7 linked regions of the Homo sapiens genome follow. The protein of the gene in region 5 purifies or fractionates together with the protein of the main gene of each other region. This does not show direct contact. Each region holds a gene or a part of one and is shown on either strand. Other genes may lie near its edges. The genes, in order: IPO9, CCNI2, LARP4, SLK, LARP1, DCLK1 and SIPA1L1.

What was found.
Region 1: the proteins of LARP1 (region 5) and IPO9 fractionate together in Homo sapiens (co-fractionation; one large-scale study listed by BioGRID). This does not show direct contact.
Region 2: the proteins of LARP1 (region 5) and CCNI2 purify together in Homo sapiens (co-immunoprecipitation; one large-scale study listed by IntAct). This does not show direct contact.
Region 3: the proteins of LARP1 (region 5) and LARP4 fractionate together in Homo sapiens (co-fractionation; one large-scale study listed by BioGRID). This does not show direct contact.
Region 4: the proteins of LARP1 (region 5) and SLK fractionate together in Homo sapiens (co-fractionation; one large-scale study listed by BioGRID). This does not show direct contact.
Region 6: the proteins of LARP1 (region 5) and DCLK1 purify together in Homo sapiens (affinity purification with mass spectrometry, with the first as the bait; one large-scale study listed by BioGRID). This does not show direct contact.
Region 7: the proteins of LARP1 (region 5) and SIPA1L1 purify together in Homo sapiens (affinity purification with mass spectrometry, with the first as the bait; one large-scale study listed by BioGRID). This does not show direct contact.

Annotation. Positions count from the first base shown.
Region 1 is NC_000001.11:201,827,750-201,831,956, reverse strand, and holds the start of IPO9 (importin-9), read right to left. Parts: upstream 2,801-4,207; 5' UTR 2,748-2,800; coding exon 2,585-2,747; exon of another isoform or gene 2,398-2,584; intron 1-2,397. UniProt on the Homo sapiens protein: Nuclear transport receptor that mediates nuclear import of proteins, such as histones, proteasome and actin. Serves as receptor for nuclear localization signals (NLS) in cargo substrates.
Region 2 is NC_000005.10:132,752,665-132,754,903, reverse strand, and holds the end of CCNI2 (cyclin-I2), read right to left. Parts: exon of another isoform or gene 2,039-2,239; coding exon 1,934-2,038; 3' UTR 501-1,933; downstream 1-500.
Region 3 is NC_000012.12:50,452,885-50,456,384, forward strand, and holds part of LARP4 (la-related protein 4), read left to right. Parts: intron 1-575; coding exon 576-788; intron 789-1,429; coding exon 1,430-1,533; coding exon of another isoform or gene 1,534-1,537; exon of another isoform or gene 1,538-3,500. UniProt on the Homo sapiens protein: RNA binding protein that binds to the poly-A tract of mRNA molecules. Associates with the 40S ribosomal subunit and with polysomes. Plays a role in the regulation of mRNA translation.
Region 4 is NC_000010.11:104,001,640-104,005,139, reverse strand, and holds part of SLK (STE20-like serine/threonine-protein kinase), read right to left. Parts: intron 2,969-3,500; coding exon 1,613-2,968; intron 1-1,612. UniProt on the Homo sapiens protein: Mediates apoptosis and actin stress fiber dissolution.
Region 5 is NC_000005.10:154,814,377-154,818,105, reverse strand, and holds the end of LARP1 (la-related protein 1), read right to left. Parts: 3' UTR 501-3,729; downstream 1-500. UniProt on the Homo sapiens protein: RNA-binding protein that regulates the translation of specific target mRNA species downstream of the mTORC1 complex, in function of growth signals and nutrient availability.
Region 6 is NC_000013.11:35,768,152-35,771,382, forward strand, and holds the end of DCLK1 (serine/threonine-protein kinase DCLK1), read right to left. Parts: 3' UTR 501-3,231; downstream 1-500.
Region 7 is NC_000014.9:71,736,476-71,739,092, reverse strand, and holds part of SIPA1L1 (signal-induced proliferation-associated 1-like protein 1), read right to left. Parts: intron 2,471-2,617; exon of another isoform or gene 2,324-2,470; intron 853-2,323; coding exon 768-852; intron 76-767; coding exon 1-75.

The sequences.
Region 1 (4,207 bases), on a different chromosome or scaffold from region 5:
GCACTCCAGCCTGGGCGACAGACTGAGACTCTGTCTCAAAACAACAACAACAACAACAACAACAACAACAAAAGCAAAAAACACTAAAATGTGAAGCAACACCAAAGAAGTGGAAAGTAGTTTGCAAGAATGGCTCATCTTGCTCTGTAGGGCATTCTAATAGGAGGAACCATGTCCTGCCAGTTTCATCAGGCCAGATAGTTGGCTAAATCCCGGCTGGAAAGCTGGGTTCTATGTTTTCATGTAAAGAAGGGTTGAGGCTGGTAAAGAAGCAGCTACTATATTGCACCATGTTCAGAAAACATCTGAGAGATTCAGACAGAGTTTAAGGTGGGAGGTACTCTGAACCCAATGTCAAAGATAACTTGTTAAAGGCCACAAGAGGAAGAAAGCAGACCGCATCTGAGGGAATGGACCGCCATTCTCCACCTTAAAACAGGTACAGAAGGGGGTAAATCTCTATAGTTTTTTTGATAGACATTAAGGAGCCAGACTACTTAAAAGACACAAGCAGCCTCCAAAGGGTCCGAAGCATTGCACTAAACTCCAGAGACTGATCCAACCCTCTAACCAAATCCAAAACCTGAGTCATATGCTCTATTACTAGATCACCAATATCAGGTCACTGCATCGATGCCTTTCCATACTTTTCATTCTCATAGTCTGCCCAACAGCACATTACCAGTAAGTTATGGGGGTCGGGGGGCAGTCGATCTATTTCTCATCAGTGACTTAGATCAAAATTCTGTACTTCTGAAATTTAATTTTTCACTTAAAGGCTCAAAAAGATGCCAGGTGTGGTGGCTGAGGCCTGTAATCCCAGCACTTTGGGAGGCCTAGGTGGGAGGATCGCTTGAGTCCAAAAGTTTGAGGCTGCAGTGAGCCATGATGGCATCACTGCTCCAAAGTCTACACGATAGAGCGAGACCCAGTCTCAAGAAAAAAAAGATGAATAAAGTGAGGAATCAGAGTTTCAAAAAAGACCTCGAGAACTTTATAATTGACTTTGCCCAGATGAGACCATGGCATTTGGCTAAAGTTGAAAAGATCAGAGCAAAAGTGGAGTTGTTGTAAGACAGTTTAAATACAAGTCAAGGTCCACCTTTCATACAAAGGTGCCAGACATGCATTTGGAGCACCAGGAGCACTGGGTACCACTCAGGGAAGGTTTAGTTAAGATGAATTTGCACCAGACTCTCAAGTTTTATTCAGGTGACAACTTGAATGTGATGAGGTTCCTTTGCTTTGTCACTCTTCCTTCCTCATACTCAAGGGGGACAGACATTAATGTGCATAAACGAATTTTATTTAGAAGCCGCTAAAAATTCCTTTAGATTAGTTTATACATGGTTCTCAAACAGCTTTCTCCTAACCAGTGGTTTCTCCTGTATAGATCTGATATTTTATAAAACAATGACAATTACAAGTGGGCCTTCAAAATGGTCCTTAGCCTGTTAGATCCCAAATCTTAACATATTTCCAACAGAAGAAAATTTGTTTTCAACAGCTCTTTCATACTGTGAAAGAATGTAAACTAAATTTAAGAGAGATTTGTTCTAAATTCTTTTCAATAGAAATACGTCCAGTAGGAGAGCTAACTGAAGGTTTTGAATATGATGGGTGTGTGATGGGACAATTTCCCATATCTCTGATGAAGTATTTAAGTGGTGGTGGAAATATTCCTGAGTTGGGAGATTCTGAGGATTTGGAGTTCCAGTGAAGCTCTGACCAGATATATTTCTTACACAAAGACCAAGAAGATTTCTCCTCCTGTTTCTGGATTAAATTGTTCTTTGTGGTAGCTACACTGGACCCGGTGAAAGGCTCACGCGGCAGGAAATTGATAGAAAATCTCGAACCAATGGTTTATTTTCTTCTCCATCACTTTAAAGCACACAATAGAGGACGGAGACAAAGAATCAAAAACAAAGGATGATCAGTTCCTCCAAACAGAAATGCACAAAGGTATTTAATAAGGGCAAATTATTTTTAAAATAAACGTTAAGTATGGTCAGGACAGTGAAGCAATCGCATATGCATTTAATTTCTGGGAAAACACGAAGAGTACAAACAACTAGCTAGGTTTATAACTCAGAGGCAGAAACTTGTTTGATGACATCTATTAAGCTTTGATAGCCGCCTTTTCGAGGCCCTACCCTTCACCACTCCTACTAATAGCTCCCCCTACTCTTATCCCAGTACAATCCAGCTGGTGAAGAGAACAGCGAAAGACTTTGGTCCTGGACTCAAAAAATATTTCCCCGACCGCGCTACTTCCTCCAACAGCACCAAGTCTAGCTCCATCTCCGTCCCCTGCAGATTCTAGGCTCCATCTATCTTTTCAAGTCTCCACCCTCCCTCCCCCACTCCCAGGCTCCACCTCCCCCGACCCTATCCTTCAGGCGCGCCTCTCCTCTCTCGGACTTTCACAACCACCAGCGACATCAATCTCTCGCTTCCTGCTCCACTTCTCGGCGCCCACATCTCCAACTGGCTCAGGCTCCCCATGTCCCCAGCCGGTACGGAGCTGCGGTCAGCGGATTGTGCGGCTGAGCCATCCTCGTGACGGTCCCGCCTCACTCACCCTCCGTCACCTCCAGCACCTTAATCTGTTCTTCAGCAGCCGCCCGCACCTCCTGTACTGGGGATAGGATCCCGGTGAGCGTATCCACTAACGCTTCCTTTAATCCTTGTGCCACTGGACCCGGCAGCCCGGAGGCCGCACCAGCTGCCGCCGCCGCCGCCATCTTTTCTCCCCTCAGCCCGCCAGCCCCGCGGCCGGGACCCGCCACCGAATGACGGCCCCCGCGCGCGGCCAATCCGCGAAGCCGCGCCTGCGCACCAGAGGCGGGCGGGAGCGGGCGGAGGGCGGGGAATGAATCTAAGCCTCCAGAGACAGCGCCTCCTGCTGCCTGAACGAGAACTGCACCTTTCTCTGCAAGGATCTCTGGATTTGTGTGAAAACTGAGCCCCAGACAGGTTAAGGGGCTTTCCTAAAGTTGCACAGTAAGTTAGCAATCTCATTTGGAATAAAGTTCATGATATATGACTTTATATTCATGCATCTTTCAGGTGTTAGGAGAGAGGAGGCGGGATGGGAATAGATGTAGAGGGCTTTAAGGAGAGAGGTCTGGGTCACAAATAGCCCCTATTTTAAACCACATTCTTTTCCCCCCAAACACTGAAAAAAAGTTGGCTCAAGTGACTCTCTTCATCTTAGCCTCAGGAATCCAAAGAGGGGGGAAAATAAACTAAAGCAAACTGGGAAGTGGAAGTGGGAAAACCACGGCCCAGTCCCTTGGTTTTCCAGCCTAGATGAGCCCAACCTCAAAGCTGGGAAGTGGCTGGGCAGGGGAGACACCGGCATGTGAAAGGGAGTTTCTTCCAGAGTGAGTGTTGTATGTGACTATTTGAGAATGAATCCTATTTGTTGAAAATGTATAAATTTTTTTCCCTGAGAAATTATGGCTGGACATTTAAGGGGTGCGAGAACAAGAGCAGTTTGATGATATGGTTGTCAGCAGCTGGTCGTGGGAAATGGCCTACGGTGCAGAGCCGCTCCTGAATAGCGGAGCAGGTGGAGAGGATGAGCGCTCCAGTGAGGTGTTAAAAATGCAGGGTGTGGCGAGGCGCAGTGGCTCACGCCTCTAATCCTAGCACTTTGGGAGGCCGAGGCAGGAGGATCGCTTGAGCCCAGGATTTCGAGAACAGCCTGGGCAACATAGCGAGACTTCGTCTCTACAAAAAAATACAAAAATTGCCCAGGCGTGGTGGCGTACGCCCTGTAGTCCCGGCTGTTCGGGAGGTGGAGGTGGGAAGATCACTTGAGCCCAGGAGGAGGAGGCTGCAGTGAGCAGTGATTGCGCCATTGCACTCCAGCCTGGGCGACAGAGTGACATCTTGTCTCAGAAAAAGAAGAAAAAGCAAGATGTAAGCCAAGGCAGGAGGATCACTTGAGCCCAGGAGTTCCAGGCTGTAGTGTGCTGTCATCACACCTATGAATAGCTACTGCATTCCAGTCTGGGCAAGATATACAGACTCTGTCTATAAAAAAAAATAAAAATTAAAAAAAATGCAGGGCAGAGTGGCAAGCATGTAGTGGCAGAAAGGATAGAATGTTGTTGGAATGGGAGGTTCTAGAGCAAACAGAAACAGGTATTTTTTAGTGAGCTGTTCAGGTTATGTGCCTTCAAAATGGTTCCCAGGA
Region 2 (2,239 bases), about 22 Mb from region 5:
GCATCTGCCTCTGAGCTTTTTCCATCTCCATTTTCTTCAGCCTCATTCCTTCACCAATCCCTGCCTTTCAATAGCTGGGGTCAAAAGGAAAATAGATTGTATCCATATTTCTCCCTGAGAAATGTTTCCCAATCTCTGAGTTGAGGTGGGATAGGAGTTCCTAATGTCAGAAAAGAATATTAGAGGGAAGTAGGATGGGACCTGGGGCCCCACGGCAAGCTTGAAAAGCACATAAGATTTTTAAAAATCCACGAGTGGGACTTCGGCAATACAAAAGTGAGCTTCCCTATAGAAGAGTTCTATCATTTATAGAAAGCCAGAGCAGAAGGTTGTCTCTTACCCCAGTCCTAGGACTCACATGTCTACCCTCTGCTTTCTCCAAGAGGTTTGAGTTGGATCAGCTCTCAGAATCCAGCTCACATCCATAGCCACCTGGTTAAGCAGCAGATGTCTTCCAGCAGTTCCCCTAAAGCCTGGGATGCCTAAACTGGTATGGGCCCTCAGGATGTCCTTCTGCCTCATGCACTGTGGTCCCACTTACACTGGAAGGAAGGAGGCAGAGGGCACTCAACGGCCACCACTGGAAGCTGTGAGCAGCATGGCCTCAGCATCTCCATCTGTAAAATGGGTTCTGGACTAGAGGAGAGTTCTTGATATGACCTAGGAGATAGTGTTCCAAATGTATCTGACTCTCGCAAGGCTAAATGCATGGTAGCTCAAAATAAGACTCATACAGGATCGGAAGCAATTAAAGTGTAATTTTAACGAAAGCACCAACAAGCAAAAGTGTGTCAAGAAAAAATACAGATGTATACTAACTCTATAATATAGACAATTATAGTATATCTGGCCCTTGACCACTTTGCACCTAGTAAATCTTTCCCCTCCCACCCCATGGCTTAGCACATTTACACAAACACACCAAAAAAAAAAAAAAAAAAAAAAAACCATAGTTCACAGTGGAAGACTTCACAAACCACCTCTGAATGTGTGGCTCAGTCATTCATGCCCCCAACACAACTTACACAGCCCCAGCTGGCATCTTTGTCAGCTGCACTCCCCTGCTTAGAGAATGGCTCTGTGGTAGCACAGCATGAGAGAGGCAGCCGGCTCCTCCTCCTGGCAGCACTGTGGTTGGAGCAGGCTTGGCCTCAGAACCTGCTCATCCCAACAGAAAGCATTCAGAGCTGTGCCTCCCATCACAGGTGTTAGCCTATAATACCCATTCATTAGCACAAAATCCCTCTAGTTAAACTAATAACTGAAACCACTTTGCTTAAGAGTAACAAAGGAAAGATATGCCTAAAGCTTGCTCAAGTTACATTAAACAAAGCATACTTTATAATCCAGTCCTTGTAAAGGGAAGACATAAGTCATAGCCATGGTTGGGTAAATGCATCTGCAGAGACTGTCCCATGTGAGGAGTGGCAGGCAGGGTAGTTGGGACTGGAAGCACCACATATGTGTTTGGGATAAGCCTGGGAAGTTGGAAGGACCTGGCCAGCTCTGGCAGGTAGAGCAGCAAGAACTGGTCAGAGCTAGCCCCAGCCCTTCAGCCCTGAGCCAGGCCTGCCTCTTGGTTTCATATTCCAGCGCTCCCAGGGGCCAATGCCAACCCTTGCTGGAGAAGGAAGGTAAAACAAGCTGCCATTTGAACATTCATTCATACTCCCTGGCTTCAGGCCCAGAGGAGAAAAAGGGAAGACAGGGTCATAGTCTATCAGACCACCCTGACCTCTACTGACCTCAGCCTGCCTTTCCCCTCTCCCCTTTATTTTTTTTCCAAGGGCTCAGTTGGGAACTTTTTCTCAGTTGCTCTTCCAGAGCCACCTTCCCTTTTTACAGGATTCATAACAAGCCAAAGAACTCATGGTAGTCCAAGCAAGGAGGTTTCACACTATGCTCTGAAAGCCCCGGGGTGGAGGCAGAGGGGCTAGTTGGCAGGTGACACAAAGTTGTCTGTGCAGGAGGATGACTGAAGACTTCTCAGTTGCTGCATTACAAGTTCCTTGCAGCAGCTGTACTGCATATCACCAACCTGTATTAGAATAGAGTGGCCATCTTCAAGCAGAACCATCATACATTCTAAGAAATTGGCAATTGAGTGCCAAAATGTTAGCATGAAGCAAGTTCAGGAAGGTCCAACCACCCAACTAAGGACCACTAATCCTACCATCTCAGGGACATCCATTTCCAACCTCAGTAAAGTTGTCATTAGTCTAACTATGCATTCCATCCT
Region 3 (3,500 bases), on a different chromosome or scaffold from region 5:
TAGTTTTTTGGGAGGTTTTTACTCTGCTTGTTGTTGTTGTTTAGAGACAGGGTCTCGCTCTGTTGCCCAGGCTGGAGTGTGGTAGTGCGATCATAGCTCACAGCAGCCTCCAGCTCCTTGGCTCAAGCAGTCCTCCCCACTCTGCCTCCCAAGCAGCTAGGACTACAGGTTGCATGCCACCATGCCCAGCTTTTTTTTTTTTTTTTTCCTTGTAAGGGATGGGTCTCACTGTGGTACCCAGGGTGGCCTCGAACTCCTGGGCTCATGCGATCCTACCCCCTTGACCTCTGAAAGTGCTCAGGTTACAGGTGTGAGCCAGCACACCTGGTTATTTTGACGTGTGTTTGTGTGTGGCGGGGGGGGTTTTACCTTGTTTACTATGGTTTTTATACCATGAAAACGTTTTTATTATTTATTAATTAATTAAAGCTGTCATTTTCTTTTCTTTTGCTCTACTGATTCTACTGTAGGCAGAAATAGTATAGTCATGTAAAATATATGTTAAAATGTAAATTAAATGTATTTTTTAAAATATACACTTAATTCTTTGTTGCTATAATGTGTTCCTCTTCTAGGCAAGGATAAAAGCCATCAATACATTTTTTGCTAAGAATGGTTATCGATTAATGGATTCTAGTATCTATAGTCACCCCATTCAAACTCAAGCACAGTATGCCTCCCCAGTCTTTATGCAGCCTGTATATAATCCTCACCAACAGTACTCGGTCTATAGTATTGTGCCTCAGTCTTGGTCTCCAAATCCTACACCTTACTTTGAAACACCACTGGTAAGTGAGATCCTTACAATAAAATATAATAATATTTTTAATTTGAGCTGAAATTTGAAGAAATCAGTTGGAGTGGGAGCTCATTTATGTTGACATTGATGACTTTTTGGCCTTTATTTTATTTTATTTTTTGTATTTTTCGTAGAGATGGAATTTTGCCATGTTGCCCAGGCTGGTCTCGAACTCCTGTGCTCAGGCAGTCCACCCGCCTCAGCCTCCCAAAATGCTAGGATTACAAGCCACTATGCCCGGCCACTTTTTGGCTTTTAAACAGTGATATGGATATCTAATTCTCCATACCAAATAAATGCATATGACTAAGAGGTGAGCTATTAGAGCGCATAATTTTATTCCATAAAATTTGCTGAGTGAATTGAAAGAAGAGACTGGATAACTTTTGCGTGATTTTAAATGCATTTTAGTGTTGCGAAATGTCAGACCAGACATTCTTTACTAAGTTATGAATTGTTCATAAATCCAGTGGTACTTGAAGTGAATATTGCAGAAATGAATCAGTAAAATATTTTAAGATATTTTTGGCTTGTAAAAGATAAATTCATAAGCTCATTAAGGTTCTTGTGACCCTCACACCAGATTTTACCTTTGCCATTAATATTGTTTAAACATACATTTTTTTCTAGGCTCCCTTTCCCAATGGTAGTTTTGTGAATGGCTTTAATTCGCCAGGATCTTATAAAACAAATGCTGCTGCTATGAATATGGGTCGACCATTCCAAAAAAATCGGTAAGATAAAAACCATAGCTGTAATGTATTTTAAACAATTCCTAATGGATCTTAAGGCATTAATAGCAATGTTTGTTGTCAGGCTCAGTAATAAGGTTTGGTGGATTTTTTGTTTGTTTTGTTTTTACTAAGTGTATATGAACAGTTTAATCTAGAATTCGTAAAAACACTTTGACCTTTGAGTTGGTAATGCATGTAACAGACTTGGGATTCAGATTTTTTTTAATAATAAAAGAGAATAGAAAAAATATTTCATGACACCAGTCTCTGACAAATCTGGTGACTAATTTCCATTTAGTATGTTAAATGGGTAGCATTTTAGAGAATGAATTCTTTGAAGATATAAATGTTGTTAACTGAATTGTGTAATAAATGTTGGGATGTATGTTATTCAGGTTTTTAAAGGATTTTTGAAATGACACCCAAGAACTACAGTGCACAACAGACAGTAGCTAACATTTATTGCACATTTAATATCACAAACTCTGTTCCTAAGGGCTTTACATATTTTATCAGTTACTTTTTTCAGAACCCTTTATAGGTGCACTTATGTCTACTTTACAGATAAGGAATCTGAGATGTAAAATATCATGTCTGAGAACACACAGCTAGTAATTGGTAGAGCTAAGATTTGAACCTAGGCAGTTCAACTCCAAAGCCCGCACTTAAAGCACTATGTTCAGGATAAATTATTAAGAATCATAGAAACTATATGCTATCATAAAGATTGAGATGTATGTCTGAGGTATTTTTCTTTATGTAGACATCAACAGATAATCTCAATATTTGGTGTATGTTATGGCTTGTTGTTGTTGTTGTTGTGGGGGTAGAGACAGGGTCTGTTTATGTTGCCTGGGACGACTGGTCTTGAACTCCTGGGCTCAAAGCAGTCCTCCCACCTTGGCCTCCCAAATTGCTAGGATTACAGGCGTGATACTATGGCTTTTAACACAGTATGAGTAACCAAAGAATAAAGGACTGACATATAGTCATTTCGATTTATTTAATAGTTTCACATTTATTACTTCTCGTTTGCTGTTTTGTGAGACTCTTGGTTTTTGAGGGTTTTTCCTAATGGTTTATTTTCAGTGACAGTCTTTTGCCAGATTCGATTCTTCTAATTATTTCTTTTGGAAAGGAGACCATCTGGAGTATGTTTTTCCAAGATGACTTCTAGGAACTTAGTCCTTTTTTGACAGGTTTTTCTGAAACTTGTTTTACTGGAGAAATGAGCCCCAACAGAATGAAAAAATATTCTTCTCACTGGAAACATTGTGTACTACTCTTTAATAGTCAGAGTTTTTGGACTATTCTTGACAGACACAATTGGTTAAAGCAATTGAAGATCATTTTCAAGTGTTAGAAAAATTTTACTACTAAACATAAACACAGGCTGAGGTGGGTGGATCATCTGAGCTCAGGAGTTCAAGAGCAGCCTGGGCAATATGACGAAACATCATCTCTACCAAAAATACAAAAATTAGCTGGGCGTGGTGGTGTAGTGCATGCCTGAAGTCCCAACTACTCAGGAGGCTGAGGAACGAGAATTGCTTGAGCCTGAGAAGCACAGGTTGCAGTGAGCCGAGATCATACCACTGCACTCCAGCCTGGGTGACGGTGAGACTCTGTTATTCCCTGCAGCCACGCCCTCTCACCCCTCCCCGCTCCCCCCTCCAAAAAATAAAGGTACTGATATTTGCAGTTGCTTGACTCTGAAATACTTTACTTGGCTCCATGGTTATTTCTTTATTGTTACCTTTTATCCGTTGCATCTTTTTGGTGACAGCCAGGAATGACAGTCAAGTTATCTTTACTTATAAGGAAGTATACCTATGGTTTTGAAAATACATGGTGTGTTTAGTACATTTTTGCATGTTACTTAAAACCACTTGTGTACAGTTCTTTTCCATATATTTGACCAATACAGGTTGGTAATTTTTAATTACAGAAATAATTAGTGAATACTT
Region 4 (3,500 bases), on a different chromosome or scaffold from region 5:
GGCTCATCTCTTAAAAAAAAACTAAATTGACAGGTCTGAGGGTAGCTGGAAATCTCTTTTTTTTGAAAAAGCTCTCAGGTAATTTTTAAACACTGCCAGCACTGGGGATCAAAATCTACTTAATCAGTAACAATAATATCGACAGCCCCTCCCTCCATCTCAGGGCCAGAGATATATGTATGATTTTAGGGTTACTAGAAAGACAGTGCCTCTGCTGCACCCAAAAGTACCAGATTTGGCTGCTAGCTATGACCTAAAATTCTTTATTAAGACTAAACTCTTCATTCCTCAACTGGTATCCAAAAACATTTAAATGCAAACAGAAATAACAGACATATAAGACTCCTACAAATACATTTTGGTAAACTAAGTGTTCAGGGCAGATACTTACTGGGTGTTGATATGGAAGAAAGGGTTAGAAGGCAGAGGAAGCAAAAATGGAATGTGAAAATGCTAAACTCAAAATGCATCCAAATTTTAAACAGTTTCTCTTTGGCACCTTCCAATCACCTTTCTGCATCCTCTCCTCTTACTGTTCTCTTCTCCAAGCTTCCAGGATCCTCATGCTCTTCTTCCAAAGTCCAGGACTATGGTACCCTACCCAGGATTCCTCTAAAATCTAAAGTTGGCAGACTCCAAAAAATACACCTATCTACACCTTAACCTCCAAACTTCACATTTCTTCAGCTCCTACTAAAAGTTCAATAATTAATATCTTCTTCATTCTTATACAAGTTATTTGCATTTTTAAAAGAGGCTATTAAGTCAGTGAATGAATTTCAGAGTGGTGGTTATTTCAGTCAGTGAAAGAAAGTAAACTGAAAAAAGAAGAAAATCCTAGGAATACATGTAAGAAAATCCTAGGAATTTGGGGCAGATAGGCAGACTAATCACTCATGCCCTAGAGATCCATCTATGTCAGTTTTCTTAGGTTGTTCCTGCTTTTCTGTCTTCTCTTCTGCTACTATCAACCCAGAGGGTCTAGGAAGTATTTTCCAAGGGGCAGCCCATGGATCACCTGCATCAGAACTCTGTGGGATCTTTTTTTTTTACAAATAGTGATCCTTGGGACCCACTCCAGACTTCTACATAGCCGCTAGTAACTCCTAAGCACACTAAAATTTGAGAATTACACTCAAAGCTCCAAGTGTTCTGGGCTTTAGTGTTTGTTTTGTTTTCCCCACAATGGTTCTCATGGCAGTAGCAATGTCTGTGACTGTATGGGCCAATGGTAAATCAAGGATTGTTTACACCCTAAATGTGCTTAAAAAGACATCATTCTTTCAATTTCTAATTCTCTCATACATTGTTGATTCTTGCTAATGTTGCATCTAGATATGTCCAATAAAGGAACCTAATCACACCAAGCAACCATATTACACTGTTTATCTGCATCAGGTCTGCAAAAATAGGTAGATCCTACCACAAAATTTAAAGATTAGATCCACAATCTCCTTAGTTCTTTTTAATTGCTTTCATAGGCTGTAAGAATTTATATTGTTAATACTACATTAATTTAATGCTGTTTTATTTTCAAGACATCAATTTCACATAAACTCTGAATTGAGAAAATGGCAAAGGAAAACCCAAACAATGACTCATGTACACTTACTTGTAAAGATATCGATCCACTGTCTTTAGTTTTACTTAGAAAGCTAGAGATGGATAAATTCAAGTCAATACTGCTAGTATCAGCAGTGGAACCAGTGCCTGAATCATTATCATTTTCCTTTGGATTCTCAGATTCTGGTGGCAGAATAGTTTCAGTTTTTGATAAAGAACCTATTTCTTCTTTATTTTCTCCACTGTCAGAGTTGATATTAATACTGGGTATTAGAACAGGCTGAGGTTCAGTGGGCTGTGAAACTACAGTAACTTCAGGCTCTTTTTTAATTGACACTGGAATTTCTTTTTTCTCTTTATCTATCTGAGTAGTGACTTTAGAAGCATCCTGAACTTCACTTCCTAAAGCCTTTTGGTCAGTATCAGCCACCACACTTCTGACCTCCATTTCTTCAGTGCTACTTGACTCAGTGATTTCTTCACCTTCAGTTGTTCCTGGTTCCTCATTGATGTCCATTATGTTCTCTGAACTGTTTATTGCTTGTTCCTTATTTTTACCTTCTTCTATTTCATTCATTTCAACTATTTCTTTAATAGGAACTTCCTTAGTACCACCAGCCTCAGGACCCACCATGGGCTTATTAATTAATTTCTGGCCTACTTCGACCACTTCTTTCCCATCATTACTCTGCGTATCCTCAGCACTGTCTTCATCCACTTTCTGAGCCACATCTGCTGCCTCACATGTTCCTATCACATCACTTGTATTGCTGATCACATCTTTTTGAGTTTTGTCGTCTTCCCCCAATTTCTCTTGGGTGTCTTCCTTTGTAAGCCCAACTTCACTATCAACTGCCTGAATATTTGCCTCTTTTTCTCCAGTCTCTTGAGAAACTAAATCTACTGTTTGCAAAATAGTATCTTTAATTTCTTCAGATTTTATAAGCTTATTTTCAAACATCTGTTGCTTTTCCTGATCCTTTTCTTCCTCAGATTTTAGATTATGTTCAATATTTGTTTCTAAGGTTATCATTATATTATTCTCTTTTCCTTCACTGACTGAATTAATGTCCACAGTTTCTTGGTCTTCTGTGTCAGGCAGATTTTCAAGCTTGGGCCTCTTCTCTCTTTCATTCTCCTTGATTACTGCTGTTCTGTCATGGAGTTCAGTCATTGCTTCTAACTGAGCATCGGTAATATGTTCATTAATATCCTCCACAGCCTTTTCAGGTTCATCAGTGGTGGGTTTTTCATTAAGAATTTTGCTGTTGAGTTTATCTTCAGAGTTACTACGTTCTGTTTTTTCTGAGACAGACTCCAAAATACAAGCATTTTGTGAAAGTTTATCTTCTTCAGAGCTGGCGATACTAAGGTCAGAAGATGCACGCTTACTTGCAGGTATTGGCTAAAAAAGATTTAATGTATTTTTAGTGTTAAAACATGACCTTAGAGTGACCAAAACAATGTTTACAGACCTACAGTGATTTCAGATCTTTATTCAGTAAATGTTGCTGAATTTAAAGAATTAACAATTCTTCTCACAAGAAATATAACAAAAATGGGCCGGGTGCGGTGGCACACACCTGTAATCCCAGCACTTTGGGAGACCGAGGAGGGAAGATCACTTGAGGTCAGGAGTTCGAGACTAGCCTGGCCAACATGGTGAAACCCCATCTCTACTAAAAATACAAAAATTAGTTGGGTGTGGTGGCGCATGCCTGTAGTCCCAGCTACTCGGGAGGCTGAGGCCCAAGAACCACCTGACACCGGGAGGCAGAGGTTGTAGTGACCACTGCACTCCAACCTGGGTGACAGAGTGAGACTCCATCTCAAAAAAAAGGGAAATATAACAAAAATGTGCAGCGACGAGCAACCTTGCTACTAATCTTCAGGTCTAAATTTAAAGGTTTTGCGTTGCCACCCATCAATCCTTAGAT
Region 5 (3,729 bases):
GGGACTCTTTGTTCCATCCCTCCCCAGCATCACATCTCAGGGTTCGGGGCTGACCAGGATTCCGTAAGTCCACATGGTGCTGGATCATTCCTCCTTCACCCCCCTGTGGAAAAGTCTGTTCATAGAGGGGTTGTGGCAACCCTCCATAAGAAGCCTCATCGTTTTTCTTCTTGGCTGTCTCATAACACAATGCAGGCCACAGCCAGGGGATGGAAAACCTGGAAGCTGACAAGTGCGCTGAAATCCTGGCATTATGCTGGACTGCTGTTTTGTGGCACTGGCTATGACTGTCACGTCTCACTTAAGACACAGGGTGGACATGAACTCAAGGCTTGTAGAAGCCCCTGCCTTAGGCAGACTCCTCGAAGCCCAATGGCAGAACCCCTGCCGAGGTTTCATGTGCACATTGAGTGCAGGGTTCCTCCGGATCTGGGGGAACTCTACCAGAAACCCATCCTTCACACCCAATAGCAGTAACCTAGATGGAAGACCAGCCAGTATTTTGCCTTTTCAAGTGTTTATTTTTATACATTTTTTTGTATTAAAAAGAAAAGCATAATTACCACAAATTACAAAGGACTAAAGCAGGACTAGAATAATGAATGAATCACTTCAGCCTGGAAAGCAGATACTCTCAATAATATTAATGTTATAATACAAGCTCATTCAAGTATTTTACATTTTTTTGTCCTTTTAAATATGATATCCTAGCACATAGTAAAGATAATGTACTACGAGCGTAAGGTGGAACCTTCTCCGCAAAGCCAGATGACAAGTTTTCCTCTCCAGTGAGAAATGGGCTCCAAGTTCTTATCTTCTCTGCCATCAGCATGGCTGAAGGGGGAGAGGGTGGGTGTTAGGGAAAATCCAGGGACCCTTCCACACAGGAGGTACTCTGGGGTTCCATTCAGGAGGGTGCCAGATAATTCAGATCACTCTACCCAGGCTTTTTGGCAAAAAACAACCCTCACCCTCCGTAACTAGTCATCTTCCTTGTCCCTCCTCCTCACTTCCCTTCCAGGGCCTTCTAAGCAGCTTACTTTCTTTTGTAAAATCAATCACCAGGAAAGGGGAAAAAAAAAAAAAAAGAGCTACAATGGAACAAAACAAAAACATTTAACAACTTTGACACAGGGGCTCAGCACCTCTATCTGAGCCCCAGGGGTCCAGGCTGGGGCACGGCTGGATGGCCCTTCTCTACTGGTAGTGCCTTTGCTCCCAAGTGCAGGAAGAGGGCTAAAGAGAAACCTGCCCCTTAACAGGGCTGAGGCACACAGACCTGCTGATGTCTGATGCCCAGAGGTTATGTTGGCATGGACCAACCTTGGAAGGGATAGGATGAACAGAGGGATCTGGGCAGGCTGTTGCTTTATCTCAGGTCTTGGATCCCCATGGGACGATGGTAGGTGTGAAGTGGTTAGCCCTGATGGCCCCTGCCACTTCTGGCATGCTTGTCACAGATACATCGGTCCTAAATTCAAGTGTCTTCAGAAAGTGAAGATGTAAACTACTCTTTGCAACATTAACTCCTAACATGTTACCAAAAACAAAAACAAAAACAAAAACAAAAAAAAAGGAAAGAAAAGAAAAAGCTCCCCTACCAACCACCAGCCGATGTTGAGATGAAGTCCTCACCTCCCTGCCCCAAAGGGGCTTCCTTTCAGGGATGTCTGTGAAGAAGATGGCAGCCCCCTGGCCTGGGAGTAAACTCTAGGTAATAACAGCCTTTCCCCATACCCTAAGGCTTCCTTGTGCCCCAAACCAGCAGAGGAAAAACACTGAGGTTTCTGTGGTGCTGGATACAGTACAGGGCTGCGTGACCTGAAGGAAAGAAAGGAAAGGAGAAGGGGGTCCAGGAATCCAGTGTCCGGTACAATGTGGGGCAGGCACCAGACTGGGCAGGGAAAGGCCTCGGATACCACCATCATAGCAGAGACCAGACGCTCATCCTTGGTTTGAGACATGAAGTCACAGGAACTGAGATGGGCTTCCCACATACCAACCACTGGGAGGGCAAAGGTGGGGAAGGGCACAGGCTAAAAATTAACAAGGTGCCCAAGGTAAAGGGCAAGCCCTTGTCAGCCTGGGATACTGTCTCCTACTCCCAACCTTTGGGCCCAACAGAGGAACCAGTTGAAAAGGAGGGCCAAAGACATTGCAGTAAGTAAGCAACAGGACAATGAACTCCATGTTGCCCAGATCCCACTGAGAGTGAACGTGCAGTCATGCCCATAACCGACACACATCCCAGTCCATGTGGGTCAGTCCTTCATCACCCTCCCTGCCTTCTGACAACAGCAGACTCCAGCCATTCCATTATCATTCACAGCCCAACCCAAGCAGTCAGTGGCTGAAGAAAGAGAATCAGGTATACTCTATGTCCACATATACCTTCCTGCCACAGGGCTTCACCAACTGGCAGGATTCCCCCCAGCCCCCAACTCCTCCTCATCCCTTGTTCCCAGGCGGGTCAATTGGAGAGTGAGCAGAGATAGATGGCTTGCAGAAGGGTATGCAAGATGGGGAGACTCCACCAGACCTTAGGGAGAGAATGGCATCTTTCTCCACCTTTTAAGAGAGACAGAGCCTCCCTGAGGTCTCAAAGATTTTTCAGGGCAACACAAGAAACGTTTCCAAGCCTCAGCTGCAGGTGTTCACCTTTCCACTCTGGGGTGTGAGGAGATGGTAAGCTGAGGACAAGTGTGTTCCAGATGCAGGCCAACTCTGTTCTCCAACAGTTTGAACCAACTTGGCCTTGGGGTTCCAAGGGTAGGATGAAGGGTGTCACGGCAGGACGGGGCCTGGCGTGAGGCAACAGCAAGCAGAGCGAGGACACAACAGTGGCAGCAGTGTACAGACACAGGACGTCAGCTTCAAACGATGCAACAGCAGGGATATCTTGGGCACGGCTCTGATTCGAGCCACTCCCAACTCTCTTGCCTCCAGGATGGAGGCACTGTACATGCAACAGTCCAGAGAAAGATTCTAGCCAGTCCAAGCCCAGGCACATCCAGAGAAGGTGGGAGCTCTTCGGGTTGACTCCACCGAGGAAAACAGGCATTTGGGTATTTCAGATTCCCGCTCCACAATAAGGCAACTTTTAAAAAAATATTATTTCCAAAAACAAAACAAAAATTCCAAGGGGAGGGGAAAGACATTACTTTCTGTGGATTAGGTGGGGGTTTTCTGATTTTTTTTTTTTTTTTGGTCTTTTATGGTCGATTTTGTCTTTTTTCTTCTTTTTTCCCCATTTTTTCAAGGATGGAAAGGTCAGAGAAAAATAAAATAAAACATCTTTCAATAGTCTTTCCTGGTAAAAGCAGCGTCTCTCTGGGCTGGGGAGTAAAGGGTGTGGGGCAAGGGGAGTGGGGAGAGGCTGAAACCTTCCCCCAAACCCCAGTTTTAGATCCTTTGGTTTCCTTCTCCCAGAAGATGGCAGAAGGGCATGGTGGGAACAGCAGGGAGAAAATATGGTGATGACAAACCCCAGATGATCAAGGGGCTGATGCTCCTGGGGCCCAGAGGTACCACCAGAGCCTTCTATGAGACAGTGCTGGGCAATGGGGGGGCCCGCAGGGCCTTCTTGTGGGCTGCATAGTTGGCTTGAGGGGGAGCAGGAGGTTAGGGGTGGGGACCAGGGTTGCAGCCTACTAGCCTCGGGCAGGGCTGCAGAGTGATTTTGGTAATCCAGATGAACTATCAATAATTTAAAACTTGATATATATATAT
Region 6 (3,231 bases), on a different chromosome or scaffold from region 5:
ACGCCAAGGCCCAGGTTTTCGATGGCAGGTTTTTGGCAGAGCTGCCAGCCTCGTAAAACAAGGTAATGGTCTTTAGGAAGTAATCACTTTAGCTATTGTTTCCCAGCAGTTGCCAGAGAGTCTAGAAAGGACCCAGTGACTTCACGACAGTACAGTACAGCAAAAGGGAGAACAGCAGCTGCAGCAGCAGCCTGTGGATGGCAGGGAAGGTGACTGCTAATTTTACAGGCACTTGGAGATATTCTGGCACCTTCATAGGACACCAGGGAACCTGCAGTCACTTTTGCTGGCTGACTTTTCAATCTCCTAGCATTGAAAAGCTCGACAGGAAAGAACTTAAATCCATTGTACAGTTTTGCAATTTTCTCTAAGGCCAATATTACACATGGAATGCCTAATGGGAAATTGCTACAAAAGTGGCAGCTAATTACAGGTTAGTGGATAAAACAACACCCTTCTCTGGAGAGCCTGTGCACGTAGGTTGAAGGATAAAATAGGGCTGAATGGTATTTGGTTTATTTGTATTTATCCAAGTCAGTGGCCCAGGCAGGAACGTAATATATGACAAGGGACATTTTTGAAATAGCTGTTTTTGAATTATGCTCATGAAATACACACTGTGCTATGGAGGACATGTGGGAAAGCTACACTCTGACCGCATGACTAATTTTTAAAGCCTTGCATAGAGAGAATTCCCCCTAAGAACACAGCTGGGCTATTCCTTCGTGAACTGAATGTGTCAATTGTGAATTGAACTAAGGTGAAATTTTACTCCAATATGGCAAATGAACTGAGGAGCGTACCCTTCAGCTAAGGTATTATGTAGTAGTTCATACACCAAGTACTATTATTTTATTAACTTTAAGAACATGTTTTACATAAAAACAGGCAACATCAAAAAAGCTCAGTTGATAAATGAACATAATATATCACAGATGATTTCATTCCACATTAACCTACATGTATCAGCTTAAACTGAAGGATTAGGGGGAAAAATTGGATCTCATTCCACCTTTAATTAAGGACACAAATTGTTTGAAAGTTATTTCATTAGGATTCTGAAAATCAAAGATTAACCTATGCCATCTGATCCATGCAGCAAGTGATAAATTCAGTATTTTCAAAAGAAATATTGAATTTTTTTCTTGAGTCAAATTGAAACCTTTCAGAAACTTGTTTAAATGCGCCAAGTCCCTACGCACCTTTTTAGTATGTATGAGCAAAATACTGTTGAATTTCACACTCAACTAATCCTTTAATAATTTTCTTTCAGCCAGAATGAAAAAGGCTAGTATTAATTTCCTAATAAAATTTTTTTTCAAAAGTTATCGAGGATATGACTATAACCTTGGACCAGTTTCAATTTCTTTTTATTTTTTCTGAGAATACACCAAAGATTAATGTCAATGGCAAGTGAGAAATTGTCCCTAGAGAACTATTCAAGGACTTTTTCTTACTACATTTGATTGGACTGGAGTGAACTGACATTATAGCATCTTTATCATCACCTTTAAAATTCTATTTTCTCTTAGTAGCAACAGTGAAGACTTTAGAACTATTACTTACTTTAAATTATTAAAGTATATCACAGACAAAATATTCAATTTTACATTAAAGCAACATTAAGGGTCTCAATTTCATTGAACAGAAACAAATGCTGAAGAAATTTACAGGTATGATTTAATTTTAGAGAGTGTTCTTTCTTTAGGGAACAAAATGAAACTAGATCTCTCATTTGTCTGTATGGGCAAGATATGGTAAACCTCATGATCAAAACACATGCCAGTTAGAAACTTGATCACAGAAATGATGCTCAGTGTTGAAACCCAACAATAAACAAACAAACAAAAACCCCCACTCTAACCAGAGGCATTTAAGCCTCTCCACTGAAGTTCCTGTTTCCCACCAGTTTACGACCCTTAATGTTACTGCATGTATGGTTGCATATTTGAGATGATTAAAAATAAAAGACTGGCTTAAAAGCACCTCCTCCTCTAGTGTGTAATTACATACAAACTAAAGATTCCTTCTGACGTCCTAGGAACCCCATTTGTTACCGTTTCATGTGTAAGCACCATTGAACCAATTTTTAAAGCACATTTGCAGTTATCAAATGTTTAGTGTGTCCTCAAGTTTCATTGATTTGTTTGCCTTTAAGCAAGAAAAGAGTAAAGTGTATTATTTTCCCCTGCTTCTTTTCATATCTGAATTGTCAAAAAATGTTAATTTTGGAAGTGCTTTTAATCACTATTTTCCCCAACAGACTAGAATGGCTCCATGAAATTTGACAATTAAGTAAGGAAATCTTTATCCCCAAAAGAAGCACGTATCTTACCCTCTAAACTGCATGCAAAGTAAGGGTCTGTGTGAGAGTATTTTCCCCAAACTCCTAATGGACATGGCAGACAATGTGTAGAAAAATCTGAGTTTTGAACTGACCAACTTCAAGTCTTTTAAAATCTTTGGGCAAAAAAAAATATCATGTAGCAGTTAAAAAAATTATTGACTTACAAATTATAGAAAAGATATGTTATCTACAATATATGCCAGGTGACCCATTAAATTTAAAAAATGTGTGCGAATGAGTAACTACATTAAAACTACCATCTTGGATCTTGGTGCTTTCCAAAATTCTGAAATCACTATTAAGGAGGGACCATACCAGATTTTTTTGTTGTTCTTTTCCTTGGAGAATGGGGAAGAAGTTGGAAAGAGAAGGAAGTAAACCTTCACTCTTTGGTACAGCCCTGTATAGCAAACTTCAGCCTGGGGCACATTTTTATGGTCAAATTAAAAACCTTTGAGAATAGGAGTTTATCATAGAAATGCTGACAGATCCTAACCCAGAGAAGGGCTAAGAGCAACACAGTAATATTAAGAAAGCTCTCCCTCAGCACGATTGAGCTTCAGCGCAAGGGATAGAGTTGTCTAGTGGACGCCCTTGGCCAGTAAACAACCATGATTTAATGTGCTTGAGACTTGGTCATATGGGAGCTCTGTGACCCTCTAAGCCAAATTTTCTTTTCTTTTTGTTTTCAACTGAAATATGCCTCAAAGGGTAAAGGATTGCAATTTTAGCCTTCATTCATGGATATATTGCTTTCTTTCAACAATATCTGATGGGCCTGTTAACTGCCACCCATGGGGAGCAGGTTGCAGGAAGGTCTCATTGAACACAAAACACCAAGTGTTTTCAGTAGTTTATTCACATTTTTTTTTCTCTGCTTATTT
Region 7 (2,617 bases), on a different chromosome or scaffold from region 5:
CTCCTCCTGTAGCCTCAGGTTGTCCTCTCGCAGGTGCTGCACCTCCGCCTGAAGGTGAGCTTTGTCTTCTTTTTCCTGGGAGGCAGAGTGAAGTAGAAAAGCTAAGAGGTGTTGGCCCCACCTTGCCCAGCTCTTCTGAGTAATAGCTATGGACCCGTTTTGATCTTTTGTCCATTTCTATTCTTCGTTCCTCCAAACACCTGTCTAAACGGACTGGTATCAGGTGCTAAGACACTCTAAGCTCAGGGAGCAGGGCTTCTAGAGAGATTCAACCCTGCAGGATTAGCTCTAAGTAATCCTGGAATGTAAGTACATTAATGTGTATTTTAACATCCTTGTTAGTCAGGATTGTCTTAAATTTTAGACAATTGTGTTGGTGGCTGATGTCTTGATATATAGTCAAGGCCACCCAAAAAACAAAACATTCAGTTCTTTTGGTGCAAAAGCCCCAATAACACCGACTACATGGGGGTCTGGGCTACTGACACATTACACAAGGAGTGGGGAGGCCGGGAGAGGACCCAGATGGTGCTGGCTGAGGTTCACAGCCTTTCACAAATTATTGAACAGTTTTTCTGTACACCGGACACCGAACGCCTCCTCATGCTGTGTGTTCCAGTGGCAACTGAAATCCCTGCATCCCCAAACACATGCAGGCACCGGGAAGACACCCACGTCTTATTTTACCATGCTACTTAGAAAGGGCTCTCATGGTTCAAGGGTAGTTTGTACAGACTGGACAATTTGCTTTGAGAATACATGTTTACCTTCTTCAAATCTTCCCGAAGCATCTTCAGCATACCTTCCAGCTGGTCCACTTTAGAAGCCAGAGTGGGAGAGGAGTCTTTACTGCTGGGAACAAGAAACAAAAGACCATGTTGGCAGGGGCCTCCATGGCTGGGTTTGTTTTTTTTTTTTTTTTTTTTTTTTTACTCTGAGGAGGCTGTATTTATAAAATGGTTTTCAATGTCAAATTACTCAGTATGGCGACCCAATGAGTATTTTTACTTTAAAAAAGAAAATGGTAGTCTTAAAAAAAGGTAATAAAAGCTTGAACTGCAGCCAATCAATAGCTTCCTTTGTTAAAGATGCTGCATCCTCACGACTAAAGAATGAAGCACAATAGTGAAAATGGTCTCTTTGGCAGCACAAGAGGTACTTTCTGGCAGATATAATTGTCAAACAGTAAAATGATTCCCAGGGAGGCTCTGGGATCTCTCTAGTGGGCTTTGACAGAGGAGTTACTCCCCTGTGTGTGGGAAGGAAGCTGGGGAGCTGATGTGATAGGCAGGTCGTCTCTGGTCCCAAGTGTGTGGTCTTAGCTACTCATGCAATTGCAGCTAAGGTATCATGCCTACATCTTAAACCACTGGTCTAAGTATCTTGTTAGCCTAGGCTTAATGTCTTAAATTCTGTCCCAGTCTGATCAAAAAACCATTTTCTTCTCATTTTCTCATGTTTTCTTTTGTTTATGGCACGCTAATCATGCCGTGCTAGTGGAGTACCGAAAGAAGTGTGAGCTGGGGTACGGCAGGCCAGCCAGCGAGCTAGACAGACGGCATGGCTGGGCACGCTCTCACCCCGAGGGTCCTATGGCTGAGGAACTGACAACTTTTCTTGCCACACTCTCCTCTACCTGAGTTCAAGCTGCCAAATTTTCCTGATTCCTAGCCAAGCTATACATCCTCAGGGGCACACCACAGAGAACCCAAAGTCTTCCATCGGGAAAACATGCAGAGCCTCTTCCCAGCGCCAATGGGAAAGAGCTAAGTGACTCCGAATTTTCTAGGTCACGGAGTAAAAGGTATTCTTTACTTTAAAAATAAAGATTCAAGTTACAATTCCTGACCTCAGATGAACTGTGTTGATGTCTTCTGCTAATCCTAAGTCTACAAGAGGCCCCAGGAGGCAAAACCCACCGTGGTGTACAGTGTGGCAAGGCTGTGGGCTGATGGAGTGACCATGACCTCCAATCTCTAAGGCAGGAAGGCCAATGAAAAGCTGACAATGAATGGGTTTGAGAAGGGACATGGTCAGCTGCAGTCCATAACCGCATAGTATGGTACGGCAGGCTGGTCCGATTTTGGGTGGGCTGAAGGCCACGGATGTGGTAGAAAAGGGGCGGTGCTGGACAGACACAACGAGGCTGGGGCCGGGCAGCAGTGGTATCCTTCGCAAAGCCACTGCAGCTCATCAGGACTGCAGCAACGCTCAGGAGCATTCTGTCTATTCACCTCCATTTCCATTTGTTCAGTCCATGCTGACCCAAGAAAAGAGCCTGTCATCACCCTCATCTGCTGATTTTTTAATAATCCTTTCACAGGAAAACAGTCTTGGCTCACTCACACTTCTCTCTGTTGGAGGCTCCTTCCTAACGAGGCACATTTGGGGCTTGCTTCTGGGATATGCATTTTTAAAGTTCTCAGCAGTCAGCCTGATTGCTGCTCTCCTCACCCCAGCAGTGCCAGAGGTAAGTGCGGCCTCTCTCCTATACTCATAACAAATGATCCCCTATTCTTGTGCCTTCTCGTTGAGAGCACTTCCTTGCAGACTTGTTCAGAGAAGTCCTCAATGGCAAGCCCCAGTTTATCTGTGCCATTTACTTCAATTGGCTTTC